Linked DNA regions of Homo sapiens: region 2 is linked to region 1. Evidence: fine-mapped expression QTL. A gene starts in region 1. The other region holds a variant in brackets. All regions are shown on one strand. Distances are from middle to middle.

Region 1 (15,839 bases):
GGGAGCTAGGAAGAGTAATTAAGAATTCATAATCATTTTGAAGATACTGTAAATATGTTAATACACCATTTATTTGAACTAGCCCTTTACATTTCCCCATCCTTGCAAGTAGCTAGAATACCTCATAAAAAGAAACAAAAACTTAAATCATGTCCCGCAGACCTCAATGGTATACCTGGGATTGATCTAGGATACTTAAGGGCTTACTCCTCAGGATAAAGGTGAATTAAAACCAGCCCTTGTGATTACCTGCACCTGACCAGTTATTTTAAAAGGCTAATTAAATAGACAGTAGATTAGGCAGTGCTTTTGATCCACAACCGTACAAGGGAAAGGAAGGAAACAAAATTAGGCAGAAAAATTGAACTGTGATGCATTCTCAATGAAATGCCTCATACAACCCTACATCGAGTTCTGAGATAGGATGACCTTTCCTATCTCCTAACCTGTCCCAAGTTAGAATATGAAGGCTGGGCCTTTACATTCCCACATTCATCAGTTATAGGGCACAGGCTGCCCCAAAGGCCTCTAACAAGAAAAGGAAAACTGGTACAAATAACCAGTATCAAAAATGAAAAGGGTATAACTACAGATAATCTATTTATTAAAACTAGGAAGATTTTGAGAATAACTTTATACCAATGTGCCGAGACCAGCTCAGTCGGGGAGATCCTAACCCAGCGGCACTAGAGGAATTAAAGACACACAGAAGTATAGAGGTGTGAAGTGGGAAATCGGGTCTCACAGCCTTCAGAGCTGAGAGCCCCAACAGAGATTTACCCACGTATTTATTAACAGCAAGCCAGTCATTAGCATTGTTTCTATAGATACTGGATTAACTAAAAGTATCCCTTATGGGAAACGGGATTAACTAAAAGTATCACTTATGGGAAACAAAGGGATGGTTTGGCTAGTTATCTGCAGCAGGAACATGTCCTTAAGGCACCGATCGCTCATGCTATTGTTTGTGGTTTAAGAAGGCCTTTAAGCGGTTTTCCGCCCTGAGTGGGCCAGTTGTTTCTTGCCCACATTCTGGTAAACCCGCAACCTTCCAGTGTGGGCGTTATGGCCATCATGAACACGTCACAGTGCTGCAGAGATTTTGTTTATGGCCAGTTTTGGGGCCAGTAGATGGCCAGATTTTGGAGGGCCTGTTCCCAACACCAGTGTATCTGAAAGTTTATACAAAATGGACCAATTCCTAGGAAAATATCACCAAAACATACTCAAAAAGAAACAAAACCCTAAATATTCCTTCTAGTGGATGCTGTGGTGTAGTGTCCAGATCCGGCATCAAGAATAAAGGACTTATTATCCTAATTTCTGGGAGTGTCATCACTGTTCATCTGCCAGCCTCATCTGGAGAGCAGACTCACCCAAGATCAGGCCCCTCTTCTTAACATAAAAATCCTAAGTGTTCATAAACTAAAAAGTAAAAACCGCCAGACCTGTAAGGAGAAACAGACAAACTCACGATTTAAGTGGGAGACATCAACACTTTTCTACAGTAACTGAAGGAAAAAGTAGGCAGGAAATCAGAAAGCTTAGAGCTGACCTGAAAAGCACTCAGTCAATCTAACCTAGTGGCTATTTATATAACACTCTAACCAACAGCAGCAAAATAGTCTTTTTCAGAGCACATGGAACACTTACCAAGATAGACCATATTCTGGGCCATAAAACAAGTCCTACCAAATCTAAAAGAATAGAAATCATACAAAGTAGATTATCAGACTATAATAGAATTGAACTAGGGAGATCCATGGAAAATACCCAGATATTTTAAATAACCATAGGGTCAAAGAGGAAGTCTCAAAAGGAAATTTTAAAATATTTTGAGCCAAATGAAAAATACAATGTAACAAAATTTGTAGGAGGCAGTGCTGGGGGGTGGTATTTATAACACTAAATGCACATATTAACAAAGAAGAAAGGTGATGAAAGAAACCAAGGAAGACTTCAATGGAAAGACAGTGTGTTCATGGATTAGGAGATGCCAGTACTCCCCAAAGTGATCTGTACATTTCACACCATCCCTATCAAAATCCCAGCAGTATCTTTTTGTGGACATGGACAGGATTTTGTGCAACTTATATGAAAGAGAAAATAAACTAGACTAGTTTAAAACAATGTTGAAAAAGAAGACAAAGTTGAAGAAATCAAACTATGTGACTTTAAAACTTATTATAAAGCTTGAGTAATAAAGATAGTGTGGTATTGGCAAAGAGAGACACATAGACCAATGGAATAAAATTGAGTCCAGGAATAAACTCACACAAATATAGACATTTGATGTTTGACAAAGATGTAAAAGTTACTAAGTGGAAGACAGTCTTTTCAACAAATAGTGTCAGAACAATTGATCATCTGTATTTGCCATAAATACAAAGGGCAAAGGAGAAAAAAAGAACCTTGATCTAAACCTCACACCTTACACAAAAATTAACTCAAAGTGGGTCATAAATTCAAATATAAAATGTAAAACTATAAAACTTTAAAAGAACACATAGAATGTCTTCATAGGCTAGGGGTAAGCAGAGTTCTTAGAAATGACACCAAAGTTATGATTCTTTTTAAAAACTGATAAATGTGACTTCATCTAAATTAAAAATGTTTGCTTTGACAAAGACACTTCCAAGAGAATGGACAAGCTATATATGCAAAGAAAAAAAAATTTTTTTTTTGAGATGGAGTCTTGCTCTGTCACCCAGGCTGGAGTGCAGTGGTGTGATCTCGGCTCACTGCAGCCTCTGCCTCCCAGGTTCAAGCAATTGTCCTGCCTCAGCCTCCCAAGTAGCTGGGACTACAGGTGTGTGACACCATGCCTGGCTAATTTTTGTGTTTTTAGTAAAGATGGGGTTTCACCATGTTGGTCAGGTTGGTCTCGAACTGCTGACCTCAAGTGATCCACCCGCTTCAGCCTCCTAAAGTGCTGGGATTATAGGCATAAGCCACCATGCCCGGCCAAGAAAATATTTTCAAATCACATATCCAACAACAGACTTGTATCCTGAATCTATAAAGAACTCTCAAAACTCAACAATACAAAAACTCAGACAAGATGACACCTAAGGAAGCTCCTGCCTCTCCCAAAGCTGAAACCAAAGCAAAAGCTTTGAAGGCCAAGAAGGCAGTGCTGGAAAGCATCCACAGCCACACACAAAAAGGAGTATCTGCACTTCACCCACCTTCCAGCACCCCAAAACACTACAGCTCTAGAGACAACCCAGATATCCTCAGAAGAGTGCCCCCAGGAGAAACAAGCTTCATCACTCTGCCCGATTCCCTGAGCATTGAGTGTGCCATGAAGAAGACAGAAGATAACAACACACTTGAGGTCACCGTGGATGGCAAAGCCAACAAGCACCAGAGCAAACAGGATGTGGGGAAGCTCTGCAACACTGATGTAGCCTGATCAATCAGGCCCAATGGAGAGAAGGCGTGTGTTTGACTGGCTCCTGCTTATGATGCTTTGGATGTTGCCAACAAAATTGGAATCATCTAAACTGAGTCCAGCTGGCTAATTCTAAATGGACATCTTTTCACCAGTAAAAATAAAAAACAATTTGAGTGGGCAATAATTTGAGGATACTTCACTGAAGAGGATATATAGGTAGCAAACAAGCATATGAAAAGATGTTCAACCGGATATGCCATTAGGGAAATGAATACTAAAACTATGAAGAGATACCAATACACATCTATCATGAATAAAAAGTGCTTTCATGGATAAAACAAAGAATACTGACAATTCAAAGTGCTAATGTGGATGAGGAAAAACTAGAATTTTCATATATTGCTGGTGGGGATGCAAAATAGGAAAGCCACTCTAGAGAACAGTTTGGCACTTTCTAAAATCAATTGCATTTTTATACGCCAGCATGAACAATTAGAAAATGGGATTTAAAAACAGGTAACATTTATAACAGCATCGAAAAAGTCAAGTACCTGGGAATTAGTATAACACAAGATGTAGCATACATCTCTGTCTGGTAAATTATAAAACTTCTCTGAGAAACGCTAAGGAAATTTTCAATAAATGCACATCTGTAACCATGTTAATGGACAGGAAGACTCAAAATTGTAAAGATGTCAAAGCCCTCCCAATTCCACTCATCCCAACGGGGTGTTGTGTTGCCGAGCTTGCTAAGAGGTTTCTAAAATGTACACGGAAATATAAGAGACCAAGAACAGCCAAGACAATCTTGAAAAAGAATAAGGACCTGCTCTACCAGGTAACAAAATAATAAAGTTAGGGTGATTAGGCCAGGCATGGTGGCTCACGCCTGTAATCCCAGCACTTTGGGAGGCCGAGGCGGGTGGATCATCTGAGTTCGAGACCAGCCTGGCCAACATGGTGAAACCCTGTCTCCACTAACAATACAAAAATTAGCCGGGCGTCATGGCACAAGCCTGTAATCCCAGCTACTCGGGAGGCTTGAGGCAGGAGAATTGCTTGAACCCAAGAGGCAGAGGTTGCAGTGACCCAATCATGCCATTGCACTCCAGCCTGGACAACAAGAGCGAAACTCTGTCTCAAGAAAGAAAAAGTTAGGGTGATTAACAGAGTGCGGTATTGGTGAAGAGATAGACAGACCAATGGAACATATTAGAGAGTGCAGAGAAAGACTCATACACATGGAAGTCTGATTCAGGAAGGAGGTAACACCACAGAGCAGAGGAATATGAAAGGCCTTTTAACAATTTTTATTATTTAACAAACATTACCAAATAACTGCATCAAGAATTTACACTTATGGTTTCATACTACACCAATAAACTAGCATTTGTTTCAGCTTTTAGTAAATAGGTTTTTTTTTTTGGAGGAGGGGGTGTTGATTTCAATGAAAGAACACCAGGTTAGAAAGTAAATAGGTTTAAGCAAACATATCTCTTTTCAACATGGGATTTTGGTTTTAAAGAAAAAAAAAAGATACCATATATGTTAGTAACTTTATTCTAAGAAATACACAGTCATATGTCACTTAATGACAGACATACATTCTAAGAAATGCATCATTGTGCAAACTTCATAGAGTGTCCTTACACAAACCTAGATGGTGTAGCCTATTACACACCTAGGCTCTACAGTTTATCGTATTATTCCTATGCTACAAACCTGTACAGCAAGTGACTGTACTGAATAGTGTAGGCAATTACTTCCTACACACAATGGTAAGTATTTGTATATCTAATGATATCTAAACATAGAAAAGGCACAGTAAAAATATGGTATTATAAGCTTATACAGTTGTGTATGTGGTCCATCATCCACCAAAAGGTCATTATGCAGCACATGACTAAAATTAGGGCATTTCTTAGTTTTTCACAATCAAAGGAAAGTAACTAATGACCAGAAATTTTCTTGACAATTTGAAATTTTCCTGGTAAAGATGAAATATTTTATATTAATAGGAAGCAATATTTCTTAAAAGCGTTCTTTAAAATTATGCTAACCAGAAATTTAGAAGTTTAGGGGACAGTGTTACTGAAAGAATTCTTTGACCCCCTGACAGCTCTTCTTCAATATCAATAACACAGGAATGATTGTGGCTCTTGCATTTTATGGGCTGAATTGTGTTTCCCGCAAATTCACATGTCGAAGCCCTATCCCTCTATATAACTTTTTGGAGACAGGGCCTTTAAGGAAATAGTTAAGGTTAAATGAGGTCAGAAGGGTTGGACCCTAATCCAATAGGACTGGTGTCCTTATTAGAAGAGGAAGAGACCAGGGGTGCACACAGAAAGAGTAAAAGGCCGCTGAAGACACAGTGAGAAGGTAACGGTCCGCAAGCCAGGAGAGAGGCCTCAGCAGAAACCAGCCTCCAGAACTGTGAGAAAATACATTTCTACACTATAAGCCACCCAGTCTATAGCTACACTGTAATTCTGCCATGGCAGCCTGAGCAGACTAACAGAATGCACTTTTTAAAAATTACAATTTTCCTCTCTTCCTTCCCTAAAAAAAACCCTACAGTTGTGTAATAAACACTGAAATCTTCATATACTGAGAACCCACCTGATTGTTTTTCACTAAATGTCACCATTGCTGTAGCCATATTTGCACCCTGTAAAGATCCATATTATATTTTACTACAAATAGTTTCTGCACATAAAAGTTTGGTTCTTTTTAAATTCCTCTACCTTCCTTAGTTATAATCTCTGTATTAGCTGGTTCAGCCTGCCACAACAAAATACCATAGACTGGGTAGCTGAAACAACAGACATACTTCCTCACAGTTCTGGAGGCTAAAGTCTCAGATCAAGGCAGGAGCCAATTCAGTTTCTGATGAGGATGCTCTTCCTGGCTTGCAGATGACTGCCTTCTTGCTGTGTCCTCACATGGCCTTTCCTGGTGCCTGTGCATGAAGAGACAGCAGGCTCTCTGATATCTCTTCCCATCAGGACACTATTTCTTTCAGATCAGGGACCCACCCATACGGCCTCATTTAACCTTAATTACTTCCCTCAAGGCCCTCCTCTTCAAATACAGCCACACTGTACGTTAGGGCTTCAACATATGAACTAGGAGGGGACACAGACAGTAAGTAACAATCTCCAAACGCAACAACCTGCTTTCCTCGGCTGTCATGTAATAAAATGTTAACACTCCCAAACAATAGCAAAACAGAGACACAACAAAAATCTGTTAAGTGTATAAATATTGACAATAAAATGCTTCCTTTTAAAAAATGGTTCATTCAGCCGGGCGTGGTGGCTCACACCTGTAATCCCAGCACTTTGGGAGGCCGAGGCAGGCAGATTACCTGAGGTCGGGAGTTCGAGATCAGCCTGACCAACATGGTGAAACCCCGTTTCTACTAAAAATACAAAAAAAAAAAATTAGCCGGGCATAATGGCAGGCGCCTGTAATCCCAGCTACAAGGGAGGCTGAGGCAGGAGAATCGCTTGAACCTGGGAGGCGGAGGTTGCAGTGAGCCATTGCACTCCAGCCTGGGTGACAGAGTGAGACTCCGTCTCAAAAAAAAAAACAAGGTTCATTCTAGTAACAAGTAAATGCCATGCAATACCATTCAAGTACTACATGGGACTTGGTCAGAGAAAACCCAGTTCAAACTATAGGAATGATTGTGAGGAGTTGGAGAGCCTGAATGGATGCCTGGGAGACTGGCAGGATGCAAGGAAAGCCGAGCCCTCAGTCACCTGGAAACTGCCAGGTAATCTGGGAACAGACTGGGTGCTACTGGGTGATCTTCCAGGAAAATAATAATTCAAATACAGAACCCAAGTGAGAGATATGAAAACGCTTCCCTTTTGATTTGGCTAACATATGGCCACACAGTAGTCTCAGCTATGATCTGTGCTTTCCTACATTCCTCGAAAAATCGACTGCAGACGATTCCACCAGCACATCTAAAAAAGATAGGTGTCTTAAAAGGGAGCCACAAAATGAACATTCCCAATTGGAATCTACTCCCAAGCCAACATTCTAGAGGAAAAAAGATTTTTTAGGTTTAATCAAAATAATACAAGTAAGAGCTTCTAAAGTAAACGTAGAAGTATTACAGATCTACTTTTGGAATTCTTGTGGTTGCTCTAATCTCTCCCCTTTTATTACAACCTCAACTGCCAGATGAAATCTTCCCAGAACTCCATTACTGCACTATTAAAAGTAATCATTTACCTAACTAGCATTTGAGCACCTATCTCCATAATCAAAGCCCACCATGTCCAACCTCTTTATACCAAACACAACACTTGCCCCACGTTCCAGGCTCATCCTGCTCCCTGCCTGCTGAGCTCTTCTTCTGCCTCCTCTCCTCTCGCCACCCCAAGCATTTCCATGGTTTGTGTGTCACCTCCTTCAGGAAGTCTTCTCTGATGACATGACACGCAGATTTTTCCTTCAGTCAACAACTTCACATTAAGAAACTATTATGTTAATTTGAGAGCCCCTTCCTCTCAAATTTTTTTGGTTCACTGTTGTCTGTAACCTATACTTAATATTGTCTTCTTACTCTCCTATTCTACTAATATGCTACATCATTATTATTATTTGAGACGGAGTCTCGCTGTTGCCCAAGCTGGAGTGCAGTTCAAGCGATTCTCCTGCCTCAGCCTCCCTAGTAGCTGGGACTACAGGCGCGTGCCACCACGCCCAGCTAATTTTTGTATTTTTAGTAGAGATGGGGTTTCACCATGTCGGCCAGGCTGGTCTTAAACCTCTGACCTCGGGTGACCCGCCTGCCTCAGCCTCCCAAAGTTCTGGGATTACATGCGTGAGCCACCTTTTCATATCCGTGGGAAAAAGTTCTTAAATGTTTTATTTCCTAATTGGTTCTCGTGTGCGATCTTAACTGTAGTAGGTGGTTACCTTTAGGAACCCAAACTTACCCATCTTTTATGCCCCCATTCACAGCACATGGCAAAGGGTGAAACACCTCGATATTAATTGGTGTTAAGTATGTTTTTCCTTTGTAAATCTCATGAATTATTTATGCTTTTGTACCTTTCTTGAAGGAATACAAAGTGAGAGAGAAGAGCTTAACACCTGAAAAATGTTTCAGTTGCCTGACATTGTCTTTAGCTACAATTGGTTAGACAAACGTTTACAGAGTTCCTACTACACGCAGAGACAGGCATAAATATTCTATTATGGTAAGGCCTTGATCACGGTTGTTATCTCCAGCACCAATCATTGTCTTCTGCACATAATTAACACCCAATACGTATGTGTGGAGTGAAAAAAATGAATGCAGTCGGCCTGCCTGCAAGCAGCTGATATTTTAATGGTGTGAGGGTGAGGGAGATATAAAGGATGAACAAATAAATAAATGAGGAAGGTCATATCAGTGTGATAACCGCTGTGGAGAAAATAAAGCAGGATCATGAATACCACCAACAGCCAGGCAGTTGTTGGCAGACCTGGAGACTCCCATCAGCTGGCGAAGCTGCCCAGCGTAGTGGTTAGCTGCTAGGAGGGCAGCCCCGGGGGAGGTGCACAGCCCTGCCGCTCATTCGCTACGCGGCTCTGGACGAAGGGCTTCACCTCTCTGGCCTCGACTTTCCAATCCCCTAAAACCTACTTCATGAGGGGGAGTCTGAGGAGTTGGTACTAAAGTGCCTGTCAACCTGGCGGGCGCTAGGGAAACGCCGGCAGCGCCGCGGGTCGGGAACTCACCGGCGCGAAGGGCACGGAGAGCCTCGGGCTCCCTCTGCCGATGTCCGCGCTTCCCTGCCCAGGGTCGAGCAAGGCTGAGCTGGGCAAAGTTTTGACCTTGAATGGAGGTCTGGGGGACTAGGGACCGGCGCCCCTCTCTGTCTGCTAGGGCTGGCGGAGACCCGGCAGGCCGGCGAGGGTGCGGGGCCGAGGTGGGCGGCGCTTCCCGGGCGCCTCCGTCAGACGGGAGGCATCGAGGGCTCGGCCAGCTGCCCCGGGCGCCCTGCGCGGCGGCTGGGCACGGGCCGGTCACTGCCCCGGCGCCGGCCTCTCGGACGAGGCCGCCGCGCAGCCACGGCGAGAGGCACCCTCACTACCCCCGCGCCCAGCCGGCTCCCAGCCCTAACGGCAGCCGGCGGGGAGCGACGCCGTCCCACGGCGCGAGGCCGCGGCGGGCGCGCGAGGCGCGGCGCGGGGCGGGGCGGGGCGGGCACATGCGCACAGGCGGCGCAGCCGGCACGCGGCGCTCGCGCTCCCTCCTTAAATGAGCCTGGGCGCCCCGCGCCCGCCACTTCAGTGGATCCCGCGCCGGGGCCGCGGGCGGAGCTGCCTGCCGGTCCCGCGCCGCGCGTCCGCACTCCTCGGCCCTCGGGCGGTCGATGGGACGGGGCGCCGCGGAGCAGGAGGCGGCGCCCGTCGGGGTGCTCGGGCCGCGCGGGAGCCCACTGTGGGGCTCGGGCATGGCGGGCCGCAGGACCTGAGCTCTCCTCAGGGGAGCGGGGAGGCAGCTGCTGGCCGGCGATGGGGACGGAGTGGGGCCGTCGCCGCCGCGCCGAGCCGTGAGCGCCGAGCCACCGCCGCCGCTACCTCAGCCCTTCGCGAAGCGCCGGGCAGCTCGGGAACATGGCCCTGGAGCGGCTCTGCTCGGTCCTCAAAGGTAAGGACCGGGGCTGGGGCCACGGACGGCGCCCCCTGCGGGCCGAGGCTGGCGCGCCGCCCTGCCCGCGCCTCTGCGTCCCTTACCCGCGCCCGGGACCCGACGCGCCTCTTTGTCTGGCGGGGCTCGCGGCTACTCGGAGCGGACCGCGGGGCGCGAGCCCTGCCCGGCTCCGCCGGCTCTCCGGGCGCGCCGCTTCCGACCCCTGCGAGTCCGGCCGACGTTCGCGGGGCGCGTGTGGGAAGAGGGATCGGGTCGGGAAGGCGGCCAGGAGGCCCCTGGGCCCAGCAGGGCCCTCCGGGCTGCGCCCTCGCGCCGCTTCCGTAGAATTCCGCGCATCCCTTTGCAAAGTTGTGAGATTCCTGTCGTGGAGCGGAGGCCGCTCTTTCTCCAGATGTGATGGCAAAAAGTAATTCCACGAGAACAATAAAAGCCGCGGCCGTGACGTCGTGCAGTGGTTTTCGAATAGCCCCGCGGCGCCTGCACCTCGCGGCGGGGAACGGGGCCTGCTGGGCCAGCCGGGTCCCACCTGCTGCGGCCACGGAGGCTGCGGCACCACTGCGGGCTCCGGGGGCGGCGCGCGGGCGCCGCGGACCCGGCTTGTCCCGGCCCCCGGGGAGCGCTGCTGCTCGGGTGCTTCCCGGGACGCGGCGCTCCTCGCGCTCCGCCAGAGGTCTCAGAATTCCCCGCCGCTGGTGTTCGGTTCTTACTAATTTGTTGTACTGGGAATTAAAACAGTTGGCTTGTCCAGAGCACAGAGCTCTAAAACCTACTCCACCGGCTTTGCATTTCCCAGGAGGTGGTAATTTAGATGAAAATTTATATACATAGATAATTAGGATTGGGATACAAAGTTGCTCCTGAAACTCGGACTGAATAAATCGTCTTTTCAATTTCCAGAGGGAAAACAGCACCACCACTCAGTAAAGGACTTCCCTTTTTCCCCCTGCTGATTTAAATTGAAAGCTGACGTGTTTGTAATGTCGTAACATGTTCTTTTTTTAAAAATTTCGAGGGTACGGCTGAGGCATTATTAACGGTGTTATGTATAACTCAGCACTGTATCTTAATATTTGTAGAGTGACTTTTTTCCTGCTCCCTAACAGCACTTTTTTCAAATTTGTTTTATTAGAAAGTTCAGTGTAATTTTGCTTTTGATTTTAATTGGACACATTGTCTACTCTCCACATATTCCTAAATTCGTAATTGAGATTTCAGTAATTCGAAACGTTTAACTACCCCACTGTAAACGTATCTACAGCTTGTACTAAGGTAACCTAGGACTTTCTAGCTGATGAATATTTCACAAACCGTAAATCCGTAGTGATTTCTTTATTACAATTGAAAACAACTCTGAAATTCATCCTGTGGCTTTCATATCTCTAACTCCTAATTTTTACAGTCATTCCTGGGAAAGGAATGTTTTTACTCTTTCGTGATAAACCGTATGCACACTAGGATTTCTGATCGTGTTGCTTATCTGAATTTTCTGCCGTTGTCGGATTGCGCCCTCACTACGGTAAGGTTGTCAGCATGCTACTGACCGTGCATCCGAGAGCACCCCCGGATGAAATCGCGTAGATCTGTCACACCGCTTTACCTGCAGAACTTGATAAAATCGAGCTGGATAGGGTAGGGGCTGGTAGCGCCTCCTCCAATGGTGAAGGGATTTGCAGCGTTTCTGCCTTTGCCTTTCCCGTGGGTGCACACTGCCCTCTCTGGCCATCGTGGTGAAGCGTTGAGTGTTGTACCTTTCAGGAAAGGATTCTGGTGATGGCAGAGCTACGGTGAAAACAATATAGTGTCTGGCTTTTCTTTTTTCAGTGTTAGCCTACACTATTTTTACATGCTGGAGTATTTTTAAAGCTCAAGCTGAATTATTATTGTTGTTGCTGCTATTGGTGGCGGCTTCCTAGAGAGAAAGCAAGTTATTTTTAAAGTCGTCTGTGGTATCAACTTGTAAATGCCAATAACTGGTCTGGAAAGATTCAATAAATTGTTAACAGTAGTTGATTCTAATACGGAAATCTAGGGGATTAAAAGACAGGAATGAAGGGAAGACTGGTTTCACTGCACACCCATTTGTATCACTTGATTTTGTTTTTGTTTTTTTTTTTTACCAAACGCATGTATAATTTATTTAAAAATCAATATTTTAATTTTAAAAAGTTGCCTTTAAAAAGATACTGGCCTTTCCCATTACAAACTACTCATTGTGTGCCCCAAGGCATGAAGAAGTTTTCCTTTTATCCTATAAAGTGAATTGCTTTAACATCAAAGAGGTTCTTATCTGAAGCAGCTATTTAACATTTACATAATTGTGGATATTACCCACAGAAGCCTTGTTTGAAATATTATGGTCAGTTTCTACTAAAATAAATCAGCCATAATGAGTGTGTGAGATTTTAAGTAGAAAGTAATTTTAGTTCTTTAAGATGCCACTGATTATTCTTGTTTTACTTTCAGCCATTAAGACAAAAGAATAACCTTACTAGGCTTTTAAACCTTTCCTATGTTGTTGAAACTAAAAAATTCACTTTTAGCTGTGATCACTCTAGGCCTCACAGAATTCGAGTTAATCTTCTGTCAAGGTTAACTAAGCATTATAGTCTCATGAAAATATTACATGAGGATTATAAATCCATTTTTTGTTCTTATTCTGCACACTTGCTTCAGGAGAATCTGTTCGACTCAGCAATATTTCAAGCTGTAGAAACTGGTTAAATTTGTAATGTAACAGCAAAAATATTCCTTGGCACTGTATTTAAAAATCTTGTCTGAGACGGTGCAAGTATTAACTCGTTTTTCATTCTTACATTTCACCCAGGACTATAAACTAGTTATACAGAAATAAGTGTGGTACTGAAAAACTTGTCCTTTAATACTAAAGCCTTATTAAAAATCAACTTTTTGGCTTTTCCTTCCAGGGGTTGGGAAAAACTGTTTTAACACTGTCAATTGAAAAGTCTTATTAAATAATGGTTTTTTTGTAGTAAATCCTCAACTGCAATCTGGTTTATCTTTCATTTTGAAATTAAAATCACTATTTAGGAAAAACCCTGCATGACAAAACAAGTTGAAATCAAAGCCATTTTCAGTCCTTTTTAGAAAAGATAGAAAAATGATAGACTAGAAATAAAGTTCATATCTGAAATTTTAAAACAATAGACTACCTCCTTCTCTTGGGGTACCACCCATCCAGCACAATCTCCTATCATTTTTCAACTTACGCTCCTGTAGAATAATTATTTATACTTAGAAATACGTCTCCCTGAGGCACTGGAGATTGAAATTATTATGATCTTTGAGTTGGAAAGGAGCATCTTAAGAGGTGGTCTAATCCAATGGTTTCCAAACTTCAGAGGAACTTTTGTGAGGAAGCACTTGAAAAAAAAAGGAAAAAGGACAACAGAACAGAGTTGCTGTGATTGGTGGGAGGCCTTGCCCTCTCAGTCACCTCAAACACCAGGGTGGCTCCAAGAACTGACACTTCAACGGGTTTGTTATATTGCTTCCAAAATTACAGGGTATACTAATCTGAAAGTTCAGTCCTTTCTAATCAAAATGACATTAAGACATGTTGGTTTAAATATGCCTGGAGTAACATTGGAAATTACAGCACTAGAAGATACCAAGTAGTCTTTCAAATATGACCTGATCATGTTAGAAGGTGATGGTAGTCACTGTACAGTCAGGAGGACTGATGTGTAATTAAAATACAGCTTACAAAAGCGCCATCTCAGATCAGCTCGACTAAGGAGGAGTTTGTCACATTCTGCAGGAAAGAGAAAGCACTTCTGCTATAGAGTTACTCTTTCTTACTAAAGTGATTGGCATGTCATTAGCATATGTAGGCTGGAGTGATCCCAAAGTTCACCATCCATCTTTGTTCTTAACTAGTAAAGTATGATTGAGTTTGATTAAATTTGGGTACTTTTTTTGTTCTTTGGAACATAGTTTATCAAAAACAAGTGACTGCCATGTCAAATAGTATGTGGACTCTAATTGAACTCTGTTCTGCTGTCATTATAGGAAATGGTAATGAGCAGAGAGACCAGGTAGGTGGTTCTCTGTGTTGGATTTTAAAAGCTTTATGTTTACCACTGAGTTGCTTAACACAGGAAGATGTAGAAAGAGACACACTTAATTACTAACAAAGGTAAATTGAGCCAGCTTGAGGAAAATAACAGTGGTGGCAGGGTATCTCAGGAGGGTGGGGGGGAATCTCAGTTCTTTTCCCATCCCCTGATTTGTGCTCGCATTTAAAAAAGCAAGGTCACATGTGTGGCTACTGTTTGTTCATCCAAGATGTGTGCCTGTCAGTTACTGTGCTATGTGTTTGCGGTTACAAAGAAGATGCACTGGAGTCGCGCTCAGTCACCCCCATGTGTTCATCGTGTCTGTATTGAATACTGTTGAGGCCAGACAGTCTTTTAGGCTGTGGAGATGCATCAGTGAATCAGACAGACAAGGCCCTTCTTTCTAGTGAGAAGAGACAGACAACCAACAAGACTCAAAATACCAGGTAATATAATAATGAAGTAAAGCAAAATGAAGGAGAAAATGTAGCGCTTATTTAGAAATTGGGAAAGCCTCACAAGACCTGAACAACAGGAAGGAATCAGCCAAAGAGATTCTAGGCCGAAGGCACAGCTGGTTCCTGAGGCAAGAATTAGCTTGATGTGTTTTGAGTGATGGGAAGGCGGCCTGTGTTCTAGTAGAGAGCGCTCGGAAGGCCAGAGAGACACGCAGGCTCCAGGTCACATAGTACCTCCGAAGTCAGAGTAAGGGGCACAGAGTTGTTCTAACTATAATGGGACTCTACTGGAAGATTTTAAGCAAGGCTGTGATGTGATCTGATTTGTATTTTGAAAAGGTCACTGGCTGCTGTGTACATAATACACTATAGGGACTGTGGCAGAAACTTCCAGTTGTCTAGAAATGTCCATTTAACTATTTGTCAGTAATTCTCTGAATTTAACTGAGCGCACAGTTCCCCAAAATGAAGACTATTTACCAGTTTCCTGTTGGTTTAGGTGACCATGTGACTAAGTCTAGCCAGTTAGATATAAGTAGAAAATGATGTGTGCAACTTAGGGGAATTGTTGTTTTTGTTGTTTAAACTTTTATTTTGAAATCATTGTAGATTATGGGCAAGTGTTTTTGTTTTGTTTTGTTTGAGATGGAGTCTTGCTCTGTCACCCAGGCTGGAGTGCAGTGGCACGATCTTGGCGCACCACAACCTCTGCCTCCCAGGTTCAAGCGATTCTCCTGCCTCAGCCTCCCCAGTAGCTGGGACTACAGGCGTGTGCCACCATGCCCGGCTAATTTTTGTATTTTTATTAGAGACGGGGTTTCACCATATTGTTCAGGCTGGTCTTGAACTTCTGACCTCATGACCCGCCCACCTCAGCCTCGCAAAGTGCTGGGATTACAGGCGTGAGTCACCGCGCCTGGCCCTGGGCAAGTGTTTTTAAAGAAAGAGAGAATGCCCTTTATCAAGTCATCATTCTTGATAACTAGAATGCAGACATGGGAGCTATAATGAAGATAGAATAGCTGGCACTCCAGCCTCATACTGGACCATAGGGTGACCTTGGAAATGAGCCTCTCACAGCTGGGTAGTGAGACAGAAGGAACCCAGGTCCTGGTATTTATAGAGCCTTCACTCTGATGCTTGACTCCCTATGTCCAGCTTGTTCGCATGACAGAGCAATGTATTTCTATCTTGTTTTAAACTGTTAGTTTAGGTATTTCTGTTACTCATGCCAAACCTAATGC
Region 2 (15,839 bases), 78 kb after region 1:
TTTTGTGTCCAGAACACATTCTACCCTCAAGATGAGAAGTGTAGCCAAAGCAGTTCTATACAGAGATTTTTCTATTATGATAAAAAATATATACATAAATAAGATTTCCTGGAAGAGAATGCTCTTTTTTGCTTTGCTTTGACCAAAATGATTAAAAGACCAAGTCAGGAAAGTTTTTCTTTCTGAATTGTTTTTGATAGCTGACTGACAGCCACAGCTACCTGCTATAAAAGATAAAATTATGTCTTTAACTGTATCAGTGCATAAATTTTTCCTTTGAATTTGAAGGAAGCTGCTATTGCTGACATTGTTTTGCCCTGTGGGTATACTTATGGCCTAAGTCCTTTTCTGTTTTTTGTTTTTTGTTTTTGAGAAGGAGTATTCTCTCTGTTGCCCAGGCTGGAGTGCAGTGGTGTGATCTCGGCTCACTGCAAGCTCCGCCTCCCGGGTTCACACCATTCTCCTGCCTCAGCCTCCCGAGTAGCTGGGACTACAGGTGCCTGCCACCACGCCCGGCTATATTTTTTTTGTATTTTTTTAGTAGAGACGGGGTTTCACCGTGTTAGCCAGTATGGTCTCAATCTCCTGACCTCGTGATCCGCCCGCCTCGGCCTCCCAAAGTGCTGGGATTACAGGCATGAGCCACCATGCCCGGCCTAGCCTAAGTCCTTTTCTAATATGAATCAGTCAGCTCTTTGCCACTAGAAATAGTATGGTGCCTGTTACTTTGGAAGCACCTCCTTGTACTCCAAACTCTGCAAGAGAGGCACCAAATGAGCCTCTGTTGTTCCCCATCCTGCCATTTTTAATTGCTAGATGGCAGTCTCTGCTTCTGGAAGGACCTCACTGAGCTGCTCTTCTGCAGGGGTGGGAGAAGGGCCTGCCTTTCCGCAGGAGCCCTGTGGGTGTTCTCTCCATCATTTAAAAATAAGCACTCCCCACATGCCATACACTGTTCCTGTCCTGCTGTTACTGCCTCCATTTTTTTTTTTTTTTTTTTTTTTTTTGAGGCAGAGTCTCTATCACCCGGCCTGGAGTGCAGTGACGTGATCTCGTTCACTGCAACCTCCGCCTCCTGGTTCAAGCAATTCTCCTGCCTCAGCCTCTAAGTAGCTGGAATATTTAGGTGCCTGCCATTACACACGGCTCATTTTTATTAGAGACGGGGTTTTGCCATGTTGGCCAGGCTGGTCTCGAACTCCTGACCTCAGGCAATCCACCCGCCTCAACCTCCCAAAGTGCTGGGATCACAGGAGTGAGCCATCGCACCTGGCCACTGCCTCATTTCTTGGCTTTTCCCCATTACCCACAAATAACTCACAGATTTTTTTTTTATGGAGTCTCCTTTTGTCACCCAGGCTGGAGTGCAATGGTGCAATCTCAGCTCACTATAACTTCCACCTTCCGGGTTCAAGCTATTCTTGTGCTTCAGCCTTCCAAGTAGCTGGGATTACAGGCGTGTGCCACCACACCCAGCTAATTTTTGCATTTTTAGTAGAGACAGGGTTTTGCCATGTTGCCCAGGCTGGTCTCAAACTCCTGACCTCAGGTGAACTACCCACCTCAGGTGAACTACCCGCCTCAGCCTCCCAAAGTGCTGGGATTACAGGCGCGAGCCACTATGCCCAGCCAGAAACTGCCTTTATCCAAAGCCATGTCTTAAAGCATGCGCCGGGGAATGCTTCTGTTTTAAGCTGGCATTCTCACCTCTTTGCCCTGAAAAAAAACAGCTTGCTTCTCTTCCCCTCATCAGGTAGGCAAAGAAAGTGATTGCACACTGTTTTTAATTGCAGGTTTACATAAACCCACAATTCGAGAGCATTGATTTGTTGGACTGTAATCTACGCTTTAACACACTGAGCTGCATTTAGGCAGCGTGCCAGATGTGTAAAGTTGGGATTTAATGACATTTCAGTAGCAGCCCCAGAATTTAGTACAGTACTACTGTCGAATACTAATGTTCCACTAGCAAGAAAACAGAAACAGCTTCATCAGTTACCTTTTTGTCCCTTTCTTGAAGATGGAGAAACTGAAAGCAATTAACTGTTTCTTGGAAACTTCATCTTATAAAGAAACTCCAATCAAGAGCATCCCACCATAGTTGTGGCTATGTTCATGCTACTTTAGCAATCAACCAAAGATTAATTTTTAACACTTTAAAATATTATGCTGCCCATTTATGAAGTTGGGGATTTTCCTGATGACTTCATCAAGCATTTTTACTTTCTGAAACTGATTATGTACATGAAAAGTGCTACAAAGTCACCATGTGTTATTTCTGCTTTTCCATTTATTTTTAAATAGCAAAGGAGAAAATCTAACTTTTGAAAAAACACATATTCTGATCCTAAAGGATAGGGTTTCTCAAGCTCAGCACTGCTGATGTTTTGGACTGGGTAACTCCTCGCGGTGGGAGGGCCAGCCTGTGCACTGCAAGGGGCAGCAGACCACCCCCAGCAGTGATGAGCAAAACTGTCCCCAGACATGGCCAGAGTCTCCTCTGAGAAGGTGATACAGGGAAGGAGAGGGGCAAAGTCAAGCCCAGTTGAGAACCACTGCTATAGAAAACAAAATTACACTAAAAACTGTTGAATTCTACTTTAAAGAAATATTTCAAACTTATGAAAGGGTTTGGAGAACAATGAGTACCAACATACCTGGACCCTGCTAAAGAAGTTATGTCTGTAAACACAATTACACCCCACTGCGGTCCTCTCCTGGCTTTACTTTCCCCCAGAGATCCTGACCATGGTGGTGATCGTTCCCCTGCGGGTATTAGTTAGAAGTTAACTGCTGTTTCTCTAACACTTGTGGCTGATCTTCAGAGTTTCTCATGCCTATATCAAATCTACAGTTGCTATTTCTACCCTCTTTCTGAACAAAACAAGAACCATACAACGCCTGAGCCGTATTCACCCCTCTTCCATCTTATGTTATTTTCATTTAGTATTTTAGTTACTTGTTTTTTATATTTCCCCAAAATGGCCAGTTTTTTAAATCTTTATGTTCCTTTATTGGAGCAAGATTCCTGATTGGTATACAGTGATGTATTTACTAAACAGAGACCTGTGCAGAAATTACATACTATTCATCTAGATACATTGCTACACTTTTGCCTATTGATGGACCCATTCCATTTATCAAGTTTTATACATCAAAAAGCTTGTGAATTTCACCAGACTGTCCGTTAATTCACCTCTGAAAAAAGTGGCATTTAATTTCAGCTATTATATTTTACAGCATTAAAAAGCTTATGCATTAGGGTACTTCTCTGCACAATGGCATTAAGCAGACAGAGCTGAGTCCATTATCCCACCCCAATGTTTTTGTTTTTATGGTAAATACTTAGATTTTTCTCTATGTTTATCTGCTCATTTTCTCTCCATACTTTATTGCATTCCGACCTTACATCTGGGATCACTTTCCTTCTGCCTTCCTTTAAAAATTATTTATTGACACTGCTGGGTGATCTGTTCAGTTTTTGCTTTTCGGAAAATCCCTGTTTCCTCCTTCTTGTATGATACTTTATCTGGGTATGAAAGACTGCATTGACTGTTCCTTTCCCACAGTGCTTATTTCATGATCATGATCATGACTTCTTTTATAAACCTAAGTTCCCATATCTTTAATCTGTCTTTTCCCACTTAACTGATTCCACAATATTGTTTAGCCATTTCACTACAATATGTCTACATGTGTATTTATTTTTATATTTTTCTTGTGATTCCATATGCTTCTTCAGTCTAAAGATAAGTATCATTCTGGAAAATTCTTTCATGTTTCTTAACTTTCAGTATTTCCATGTCTTCATATTTTCATTGTGATACACATTTTCTCTTAGCCACGTCTCATCTTCTGTGTAACTGCCCAATGAGTACTTAATGAGTACTTAATGTGAATGATTATATTGTTTATTTCCAGAAATCCTATTTAGTCCCTTTAATTTTTTTTTTTTTTTTAAGAGACGGAGTTTTGCCATGTTGCCCAGGCTGGTCTCGAACTCCTGAGCTCAAACGATCCACCCACCTTGGCCTCCCAAACTAGGATTACAGGTGTGAGCCACTGCACCTGGCCTAGTTCTTTTAAAAATTTGCCTGCTCTTTTTCTATGGTTTCTTTTCCTGCGTTTTTCTTTCTCTTTTTTTTTCTCTTTTAACGAATTTAACCATTTTGTTTGTTTGTTTGTTTGTTTGTTTTTTGAGACAGGATCTTGCTGTGTTTCCCAGGCTGGAGTGCAGTGGCACCATCACAGCTCACTACAGCCTTGATCTCCCGGGCTCAAGTGATCCTCCCACCGTAGCCTCCCAAGTAGCTGGGATTACAGGCACATGCCACCATGCCCAGCTATTTTTTGCAGTTTTTGTAGAGACTAAGTTTCATCATGTTGCCCAGGCTAGTCTCGAACTCCTGACCTTAGGTGACTTGCCCACCCCAGCCTCCCAAAGTGCTGGGATTACAGGCATGAGCCACTGGGGTGCCCGGCCGATTTCCTTTTTTTTTTTTTTTTGAGACAGAGTCTCGCTCTGTCACCAGGCTGGAGTGTAGTGGTGCGATCTCAGCCCACTGCAACCTCTGCCTCCCAGGTTCAAGCGATTCTCCTGCCTCAGCCTCCTGAGTAGCTGGGACTACAGGCACATGCCACCACGCCCAGCTAATTTTTGTATTTTCAGTAGAGATGGGTTTTCACCATGTTGGCCAAGATGGTCTCAATCTCTTGACCTCATGATCCGCCCACCTCAGCCTCCCCAAGTGCTGGGATTACAGGTGTGAGCCACTGCACCCAGCCCGATTTCCTTCTTTTTTAATGCTCGGTAGTATCCTATTATATGTAACGGGATACTATTATCCCATGTGGGTATGCATATATACACACACACACCACATTTTCTTTATCCTTCCCTCCACGGATGGTCACGTAGGTAAATTCTGTATCTTGGCTATTGTGAATAGTGCTATGCAGTAAACATGGGAATGCAGATATCTCTTCAACATATTGATTTCATTTCCTCTGGAAAATACCCAGAGTGGGACTGCTGGATCATATAGTAGATCCACTTTTTTAATTTTTGGAGAAACCTCCGTGCTGTTTTCCATAATTGCTGTACTAATTTACATGCCCACCTACAGTGTGCAGGGTTTTCCTTTAATGGCCGTTCTAACAGGTGTGAAGTTATATCTCATTGTGCTTTTAATTTGCATTTATCTGATGATTCGTTATTTGGGGCAGTTTTTCATATGCCTGTTGCATTTGTATGTCTTCTTTTGAGGGATGTCTGTTTAAATTATTTGTCCTGAAATCTTTTTTATATGGTTTATTTTTGTCAAATCAAGAAGCAATCAAGGGGCCTCTTGTTCTTCCAGAAGGTCATTTCAACAGTGTGAGAGAGATACCATCAAGAGCTTCAGTTTGATCTCACATCCTCCTGGGGCCCACAACTCCTGCCAACCCCCTGGAGCTCTAGACAGACCCCCAAGAGCATTGGCTGCACGTCGCCATTGACTTTTTGTTCAGATGTGATGGGTTGACTAGTTTGTGGTGAAGTTACGTAGCACAATTTTTATCTGCAAATGCTAAGAGATAAGCCCAAAAAGAGCCTGTGTGGGCACTGGCACATTTATGTGAATATTCAAAACCATCCTCTTCCCAATTTTAAAAAAACCACGCCTGACAGTAGTTAAAGCAGTAAAGACAGATTTTATTCAGGAACTGTTGCTGTTGGGGAAAGAGCCCTCAGTGTGGAACTGGGCTCACTTCCGAATACAGCATGAACAAGTAGGGACGGTGGCCAGGAGCAGGGTGGGGGCAGCAGGTGGAAAATTACGGAGAGTATGCGAGGGGTGCAGAGGGATTCTGGTTCATCAGATGTAACAGGATTCTCCCCAAAGGCAGGTTAGAGTGGGCAGGCATTACCTGGGGGTGAGGGGTGGGAGAAGAATTCGAGCCAATATCGAGGGTGATTAGATACTGAGGTTGGGGATGGGGGTCCTCCACATTGACTTATGAAGATTTCTGCTACAGCTGGGTGACGGAGGCCTGAACAAGGACAGACTCCAAGGTTGAGGCCTAGAAG[G/C]CCGGAGGAATCTGACGTTTAGTTAAGGAGTCTTTGTCACCACCAACAGCAGGATACGCGTTCCTCTCAAGGGCACACAGGATGTGCTCCAGGCTGGAACACACATTAGGACCCAGAACAGGTATTCACAAATTTAAGAAGTTTAAAATCATACAAAATATCTTTTCTAAACCACAATGGAATGAAACTAGAAATCAATAGCAGAAGGAAAACCTGAAAATGCACAGATATGTGGAAATTAACACTCTTAACCAGTGGGTCAAAGAAGAAATCACAAGGGACATTGGAAAGTATCTTGAAACAGAAACTGAAAATGAAAACACAACATCCCAAAACTTATGTGAAGTAGTAAAAGCAGTGCTCAGAGGGAGGTTTATAGTAGTAAACACATTTTAAAAATAAAGCTCTCTAGGCCGGGTGCAGTGTCTCACACCTGTAATCCCACCACTTTGGGAGGCCAAGGCAGTTGGATCACTTGAGACCAGGAGTTCAAGACCAGTCTGGCCAACATGGTGAAACCCTGTCTCTACTAAAAATAGAAAAATTAGCCAGGCGTGGTGGTGCATGCCTGTAATCCCAGCTACTCAGGAGGCTGAGGCACATGAATTGCTTGAACCCAGAAGGCAGAGGTTGCAGTGGGCCAAGATCACACCACCGTACTCCAGCCTGGACAACAAAGCGAGACCCTCTCCAAAAATTAAAAAGATTAAAAAAAAAAAAAAAGATCTTGAACCAGCTACCTAACTTCACCTTCACACTTAAACAAACTGGGAAGAGAAGAACAAGCTAACCCCAAAGTTAGCAGAAGGAAGGAAATATAAATATTATCAAATAATATTATAAATAATAAAAATTAGAGCAAAGATAAACTAAGTAGAGACTAGAGAAACATCATCTTTTATTTCTTCTTATGCATTGTATGAAGAGAAAACCCAAAGTGGGTCACAGCTCTCAGTCTTTGTAACCTAGAAGTACATACTGCAGCGTAAGTTTCTTCCAGTTCAGTTTCCTTACATTGATGATAAAACTCTTGACATGCCCCAGCATCCATTAAACTGCCCTGAGCCCCTCATTCCCTATTTTTCTATACTTTTTTTTTTAAGAGACAGGGTCCCACTCTGTCGCCCAGGCTGGAGTGCAGTGTTGCGGTCATAGCTCGCTGCAACCTCCAACTCCTGGGCTTCAGAGATCCCGCCACCTCAGCCTCCCGAGTAGCTGGGATTAAAACCCTGAATCACTGCCTGGCCTTCTGAGATCCCGCCACCTCAGCCTCCCGAGTAACTGGGATTAAAACCCTGAATCACTGCCTGGCCTTCTGTGATGTTCCTAAAGGAAATCTAGGGATACACTGTTCTTGCCCCCAACTAATGTATCGTCCACTGGGGACTCAAAGAAATAAAAGAGCACATGAGAAACAACAAATGCTGGATTGACTGACCAGGAAGGACTCAAGCAGGGAGGCCCTGCAGCGCTTCCAGCGCTTTTCTGAAGGAGGAGAGGGACCAGCTGAGGAGGAGGTGAGCAGACTTCCTAACAACCGTAAGACTCAGATTGCAGGGGGCATTCCTCAGGTGCACAACAAATTGGGAACTGTGGGCTAAAATGAAGGTTTTGCTGAAAGAAAGGAAGAAGGAACCCATTGTGCCTCTGACTAAATGTAAACAGCCCCTTTCCTGTACCTCTAGCACATACCTGGTGTCCCACTCACCCAGGTATATTTTTTTTTTAAAAAAAGAGAAGCAGCCTGTGATGCTAAAGGAAGTAGAACATAGATGACTATTGAGGTTGCTCAGAATCGCCTGTGTACTTTCATGCACATCCAGACTCCTGGATCTGACGCCATTACACCTTTCCATCTTAATGAGTTGGAGATGAAAGGGAATAGAACAAGCTCCAAGGAAACCAGAAGAGATGAAAGGACCTCAGTTTCTTCAAATAACTCCAAAGACTTGAGAGACTCAGATTCCACTTGATGGAAAAAATGCCACAGCTCATGTCAGCAGTGGGAATGCAGCGCAGAGAGCCCTGAAAAGAAATCAATGAGCCCGAGCCATACAATATTGGGGCTCCCTTGATCTTGGTCAGTATGCCCTTGGGGATAATGTTCCTTCTCATTCAAGACAGAATGGACAAAACTACAATCACCTTCCCTCCTTTAGAACAAAGCCTTTGTGTTAGTCAAGACTCTTTGACCTGAAAATAATAAAAATAACAACCTAACACAACTCAGTTTTTTGGGGTTTTATTTCTATTTCTTATTTTTATTTTTTAAAGGTGGATCTCACTCTGTCATCCAGGCTGGAGTGCCATGGCATGATTATAGCTCACTACAGCCTCAGTCTCTTGGACTCAGCCACACCTGGCTGGTGATCGGTGGGAGTGTGTCTCTAGGCTGCCCAGCTCACCATGAGGTTTGTTCTCTGTGTGACCACATCCCAGCGCTCTCCCCTGCCCATAGTTTATGGCCCAAACCATGGTTGCCTGGTGTCACCTCCCAGCCTGCACCTGACCGTGGCTCGCTGTCCCTCATTTTCTCTCTGGCTATGGCCATGGGCCTGTACGTGAGGCTGCTTCCCTTCTGAACAGATTTCTGGCTTCCTTCTTCAACTGTGGCTTGAACTTTTATTCTGTTATTCATTCCACAAATATTGCCAGGGCATTACCAACTGCCAAGTATAAAGGGTCCGTGTTGAACAAGGTAGATCTGGTCCCTGTTCATGTGAACTTAGGTGCCCTTAGAGAAGGTTGTTAAGCAATTAGAATACTAAGAGACCAGGTGCGGTGGCTCATGCCTGTAATCCCAGCACTTTGGGAGGCTGAGGTGGGAAAATTGCTTGAGCCCAGGTGTTTGAGACCAGCCTAGGCAACATAGGGAGACCTCTATCACTGCTAAAAATTTAAAAATTTAGCGGGGCACAGTGGTGCATGCCTGTAGTCCCAGCTACTCAGGAAGCTGAGGTAGAAGGATCACTTAAGCCCAGGAGTTTGAGGTTGCTGTGAGCCATGATTGCAGCACTGCACTCCAACCTGGGCAACAGAGTGAGACTCCATCTCTAAAAATAAGTAAATAAATAATAATAAATAAAATAAAATAAAATAAAAATCTGATGAGTGATAGGAATTAGAAGGGCCTGCAAGAACACGTGGCAAGACCCTAAACCAGTCTAGTGCTCAGAGAAGGGCTCTGTGAACACCAGATAGTTTGAAGAACAAATGATGAGTTCAAAGTGGGCTGTGTTGTATGTGCAGGACCTGGAGACATCCGGGTGAGTGTCTCACGCTTTGGATTGTGTGGCCTGCTGCTGCTCTGGGCAAGCACTCTCCCACCCAGACCCGACCCAGTGCCCAGGGACCCAGCCAACACAGGCCTGAAAGACCCCATGCTCTCCAAGTTCACCTTAAACATGATGCTGACACATCCAGGTTTGTCATCAGAATGTCCTAGGCCAGCAAAAGAGATGAAAGGGCTAAAAAGATGCTCTGTGTGAAACAAGAGCTGCTCCCGGGAAGCCAATAATTACACGCTGTGCTTATCATGCTGAGTTGTCAAAAAAGCTTTCTTCTAAACACCAAGCAATTAAGAAAGGGGCAGCAAATATTTGCTGATTGATTGATGATGGTTCCCAGGGATGGGCCACAAAAACAAGAGTTCTAACTGAGGCAGGCATAACAAGCAGCGTGGGGTCAAAGAAAGGGGTGAGAAGCAGAGACGAGGGGGGCGGCACTGGTGGGGGGGGCCTGGCACATGAGCTCAGCGTAGCGAGGTTCCCACCTCTGTCCCCTCCCCTGGCTGGCTTTTACCCCTCCTTGCCACCAGTCTCACTCCTCCTCCTTTCTCCCTCTCCTCCTCCAGCCTTTGCGGCTCTTAATGACAGTTCTGATTCTCCGGGCTCCCTGGCAGAGCCCCTCCCAGACCCAGCTCTGGGCCTCCCTAAGCCCTTCCCTTAAGGGTGGTGCCACCCCCAGGCTCACCAGAGCCCTCAGGGTGGGCCTCAGCCATGGGTGGGGGACTGAGAAAGTGCTGAAGTTTCCCACAGTTCTGGAGTTCACACTACCAGTATTTGAATGTAATATCCCCTGTAAACCAAGGATTGCAGAGAAAGCTTTCTCAGACTGAAATACATGTGATAAGAGGGAAATGATTTTTTTCAAGTTTACAAAAAGATCAGAACCGATTATGGCTAATAACACACAAGAGGAATGGAAAAAGCCAGGCGTGGGGGGTGCATGCCTGTATCCCAGCTACTCGGGAGGCTGAGGCAGGAGGATCGCTTGAGCCAGGAGGTCAAAGCCAGCCTAGGCAACATAAACCATAACGATTAAAAAAAAAAAAAAATTTTTTTAAAATCTTCCTTCTAGAGGCATTAAAAAAGGGTTAAAAAAATTTCAACTATAGGCTGGGCATAGTGTCTCACACCTGTAATCCCAGCAATTTGGGAGGCCAAGGTGGGTGGATTGCTTGAGGTCAGGAGTTCAAGACTAGCCTAGACAGCATGGTGAAACCCCATCCCTACTAAAAATACAAAAATTAGCCAGGCATGGTGGCACACGCCTGTAATCCCAGCCACTCAGGAGACTGAGGCAAGAGAATTGCTTGAACCCAGGAGGCGGAGGTGGCAGTGAGCCAAGATCACGCCACTGCACTCCAGCCTGGGCAACAGAGCAAGACTCTGTCTCAAAAAGGAAAAACAAAAAATTCAACTATAGTTATAACTCAAAGCAATACCCATACACTTTCCCCACACCAGCAGAACTGGAAATTGAAAATTGCATGTGACTGTGGCCATAGACAAGCTCTGGGCGCCCTGAGCCTTGGACTAACCCAGCACCTTCCACCAGGAGGCCAACCTCAGCTGTTCCCTACTGTGGATTTACCCATCAAGCCAGTGCCAATTTGGTCTGAGGCTGGAACAGCCAATGGAGAAAGTGACTTTATTGGGATTTTCACCTCACTCGTTGGGAGAAGCAGAGACGTCGGCCCCTGCTCCAGGAGACTGCCCTCCTGGATCAAAAGGAGGCCACCTTTTCCTGCACCATAGGCCTTTATTAATTATTTTAATAATCTTTCACTACCAAAGCAATATATGTGAATTTTAGAAAACAGGAAAATACTGATGATCCCCAAATAAAAATAACACATTTCCAACCACTCAGAGACTACCACTATAGCTCGTCTATATCCTTCCAGATTTTTCTGTGTATTAATATATATGTGTATTGTTTTTACTAAAATGAGGCCACACCATACATATTGATTTTTTTCCTTTCAACTTTCATTGTGAAAATGTCAAACCTACAATAAATTGAAAAAATGGCTCCCATTCATGAATTGGTGCCATTTTGCCACGTTCGTCTTGTCTGTCTCCCCAATGTCTATATAGATTTCTCTATATCTATGTCCAGACATAGCGAGACCCATATAGAGTAATACATATATAGAGAGAGAGAGATTAACCATTTGAGACTAAGTTGCATATATCATGACCCTTCCCCCTAAATACCTCAGCATGTATCTCCTGAGAACAAGGATGTCCATCTACACCACACACAATTATCACATCCAAGAAATTTAGGCTGGGCATGTGGCCCACACCTGTAATCCCAGCACTTCAGGAAGCCAAGGCAGGATGATTGCTTGATCCCAGGAGTTTGAGACCAAATTCGGCAACATAATGAGACTTCATCTCTATGAAAAAGTTTTTTAATTAGCTGGGCGTGGTGGTGCACACCTGCAGTCCCAGCTAATTGGGAGGCTGAGGCAGGAGAATCCCTTGAGCCCAGGATGTTGAGGCAACAGTGAGCTATGATCACACCACTGCACTCCAGCCTAGGTGACAGAGCGAGACTCAGTCTCAAAACAAAAAACAAAAAAAAAAACATATTTCACAGTGATACAATATTATTAACTAATACACAGTTAATATTCAATGTCCCTTAATTGCCTAATCCTTACCTCCTAATCCTGTCCCTTACAGTTGGCACTAAAGGTTGGGTTATTCAGGAGTTCACACCAAGATGGATTGGGGGTACAAAATGTTTGTTTGTTTGTTTGTTTTTGAGACGGAGTCTGGCTTTATTGCCCAGGCTGGAGTGCAGTGGCGCCATCTCAGCTCACTGCAAGCTCTGCCTCATGAGGCATCTGTGCCTGGGAAAGGAAGCAGGACTGAGCAGAGGAAGAACTGCCACATGGGCCTGACACAGCCTCAGTCCACCCGATGGGGAAGCTCTGGAGTGAGAATTGCCCATCACATTGTCTTATATGGAGCCAGAAGGGCCTTGATGGCCCCTCCTGAATCAGTATGCATGGGGCTGACCTTGGGCAAGGCAGCTCTCCAGCCAAAGCAGATCCCGAAGAGCAAATAGCAGGGGCCGTCTGCTGGCCACATTCTCGGTAGGAGGCAGCCCGTTGCAGGGGTATCTGGGTGGCACACCTCCATATCTTCTGGATCCGATTGAGGGTCACATGTTACATTAAGTCATCACGTCTCTTCAGTCTCCTTTAAATTATAACATTTCTGTCTTAGTCCATTTGGATTGCTATAACAAAAATACCATAAATTGAGTGGCTCATAAACAACAGAACTGTATGTCTCCCAGTTCTAGAGGCTGGGAAGTCCAAGATCAAGGCACCAGCAGATTCAGTACCTGGTGAGGCCCTCTTCCTGGTTCATAGATGGCTGTCTTTTCACTATGTCTTCACATGGTGTAAGGGGTGGAGGATCTCTCTGGGGCCTCTTGTTTAAGGGCACTGATATGGTTTGGCTCTGTGTCCCCACCCAAATCTCATCTCAAATTGTAATCCCATGTGTCAAGGGAGAGACCTGGTTGGAGGTGATTGGATTATGAGGGTGGTTTCCTCCATGCTGTGCAGGTGAGTTCTCATGAGGGCCGATGGTTTTAAAGTGTGGCACTTCCCCATTGCTTGCTCTCTCTCCTCTGCTGCCATGTAAGACATGCCCTGCTTCCCCTTTGCTTTCCCCCATGATTGTAAGTTTCCTGAGGCCTCTCCAGCCATGTGGAACTGTAAGTCAAACCTCTTTTCTTTATAAATTACCCAGTCTCAGGTATTATCTTTAGAGCAGTGTGGAAACAGACTAATACAGACACTAATCCCATTCATAAAGACATCACTCTTGTGACCTAATTACCTACCAAAGTCCCCACCTCCAAATACCCTACAGTGGGGATTAGGTTTCAACATATTAATTTGGGGTACAGCAACACTCTGTCTATGGCAATTTCCCCTGCCTTTTTATCCTTTAGGAGATTAACATGTTTGAATGGCCCAGGCAGTTGTTTTGCAGAACATCCTCCTTTTGGATTTGTCTGATAACATGGAGCTTCCTAACTCACTTTGTTCAGTCCACAGTCTCCCTTCCATTTTAATACACGTTCCTGCCATGTAATACCTAGATGACAGTCAGACTTTCCTGATTACAGCCACTTCATCCACACCACTGTCCAATCCAGTACCACAGACTGCACCTGGTGGCTACCTTCCTTCTCTGTCTTTTAGTCCAGCACGGTGTTCCTTTTATGAGATGAAACATGGAGAGGCTGGGCCGCTTGTCTTGCAGGGCACCCCATGTTCTGGTTGCTTCCATGTGGTGTCATTTAGTTGGATCCCCTACTTAATGAATTCAAGTTACACATTTTTGGCTGGGCTGCATCACAGGTGGTGTACTTTGAGAATCACACACGAAGTGCTCTGTGAGCCTTGAAATACGAGTCTTTTACTGGGTTTCAAATGCTCACTGCTCCCTCTCCTAGCTCCACCATTTACCAGTTTCATAGGGAGGAGTGCGCCTATTCCTATCGCCGCATTCCCCAGCAGGGGGCTGTGAGAGGTGAGATGGAGGCTTAGGTGGGATGAGGGGTGGAAGGCAGTGAGGAAAGCCAGGGAGCCAGGAGATTTGCGTTCTCATCCTAACTCTGTCCTCACCTTTCTATGTGACTTTAAGTAAGCCCCTTGACCGCTTGTCCCTACAACACAAATAGAACGTTTCTTGCCCTGCCTACATTGGAGGCAGTGAACAGGATCCCATAGAGTGTAGACGTGGAAGCACTTTCCAAACCAGAGCACATCAGGGGTAAGGGACGCTTCCCACCAGGAGATCAGGGCAGGGGCCAGATCATCCTCGTGGCATGATTAGAGCTCGGTGGATCGTGTGGCTTTACAAGCCGCACGATTCCCTTCCTGACGTTCGGGACTTTCATTGTGCCAAGCAGATCCGCATCTCCTTCAGTCCTACCAGTGACCCCGGGTGTAGGAGGCCAACTCTCAGAGAAGGTCGCACCCAGCCTGCTACTGCCACAACTGCTAAGCCCAACCTCCCCTCAGGAACGGGCATGAGCTCGAGAGGCGGAAGTAAAAGGATTCAGATCCCTTGATTGAGCTCCAGGAACGAGGACTGGAAGCCGCCTCTGGCAGGGTGGCCGGGATTTGAGGTCAGCCCAGGCCAGCTTGGGTTGGATGTGGCTTCCCAGGGGTAGAGGGAGCAGCTCACACGTGCCAAGGATCCCACACAGCCTGGAAGCTGTCACTTCCCAGCTGCTGGACCTCAGGGAAGGAGGCCCAGAGAGTAGCCCAGGGAGGGTACAGCAGGCGGCGACTGTTTATGGACTGGGTGTTAAATGGCTGCAGAACATGGCAGCTTCAGGCCTCGGGGCCCAGGGAAAAGTTCGTTCCTGCTTCTACCCAGAGTTTTAGGTGGTGGAGAGGCTTGAAATGGGGAGTTACTGGCGTCTCTTAACCAGGCCTTCTGGGGGGTAAATATTGTGAATATTACTCCTGCCTGGAATAACCCTTCTAGGGTTTCCAACTAGAGGCACCTGGCCTGGTCAGACTTCCTCATTCAGCCAGTGTAATGGTGGTGTTGCTTTCAGATGGGCTTGAATGTGTTAGGCACTCTCCAGTTTGCCACAAGCACCACCACTCCCTACTGTCTCAGTTCAGTCCTGTGATCAGTTTTATTGCTGCCAGATTGTAGGACCCACCCTGCCCCTGGAAGAATTGAGGTTGCGAGCTCACAAGCAGGCGGTCCCCATTGCAACTCCTGCCTCTTTGGCCAGAAGCAGCCATGATCAGCCATTGTGAAAACCGAGACTGTGGTCCCAATAGGGGCCACCTTCCAAGCCTAAGTGCCTCTCCACCATAGTGCTGATCCCTGCCATCCCAGGACTTCAGATTGATCCTTGAGGCCAAATGTAGATTCCTTTGTGAAAGGAGATGGCCGTATTACCTCACTAACAGCTTAGCACCAATTGGTTAATAAAATACCAGGAGAGAGAAAGAGAGGAAATTGGCATCTATTAAGAGTTCACTCCGTGCTAAGTCCTGGATATACCATCCCACTTAGCCTCCCAGCACCACTGTAAGACAGGTGGTATCCCCATTGTACATATTGGAAAACCAAGGTTAGCTTCCCTTAAATTGCACAGACAGTAGAGCACAGCCAGTTTTTGAACCCGGATCTGAATGTGAGACTGTGCTTTTTCCTCTATCCACACTGTGTCGCCATAAGCACCTTCTGTGTGCCAGGCACAGGACTGGGCACAGTCTGTCCTTGCCCAGCTCCCAGTCTGGCAAAAAGGACTTCGTATGTGCACTCCGCCCTCATCCCTCTCCCAAAGCTCAAGCCAAGTTTCCAAAGAATGGCAGCTGCCACTAGGGGGATGGGAGGTTTTAGGTGAAATGCAACATGAATTACTTTGTTTCAATAGTTATATATTTAATATAAAATTGGGAGGCCGAGGCAGGCAGACCACG

Direction of the effects. Positions count from the first base shown, and alleles are read on the strand shown. Sizes are in standard deviations (SD) of each study's normalised expression.
With allele C in place of G in region 2, the expression in monocytes of the gene that starts at base 9,692 in region 1 is lower (large effect, 1.5 SD a copy in Quach 2016).

What was found.
Region 2: its variant is fine-mapped to the expression of NETO2 in monocytes (Quach 2016, PIP 0.95).

Annotation. Positions count from the first base shown.
Region 1 is chr16:47,137,798-47,153,636 of GRCh38, reverse strand. It overlaps NETO2 (neuropilin and tolloid like 2), which reads left to right and starts at 9,692. Exons shown (of 9, transcript NM_018092.5): 1 at 9,692-10,058. The coding sequence starts at 10,025. ITFG1-AS1 (ITFG1 antisense RNA 1) reads right to left here and starts at 9,569. Exons shown (of 4, transcript NR_110904.1): 1 at 9,143-9,569. It also overlaps the pseudogene RPL23AP72. RefSeq lists silencers at 9,162-9,491, 9,552-10,391, 10,562-10,711, 11,539-11,588, 11,599-11,688.
Region 2 is chr16:47,060,058-47,075,896 of GRCh38, reverse strand. No RefSeq gene overlaps it. Among named protein-coding and RNA genes, the nearest start is that of NETO2, 76 kb to the left of the region's middle. The variant G/C (reference allele first, on the strand shown) is at 6,071.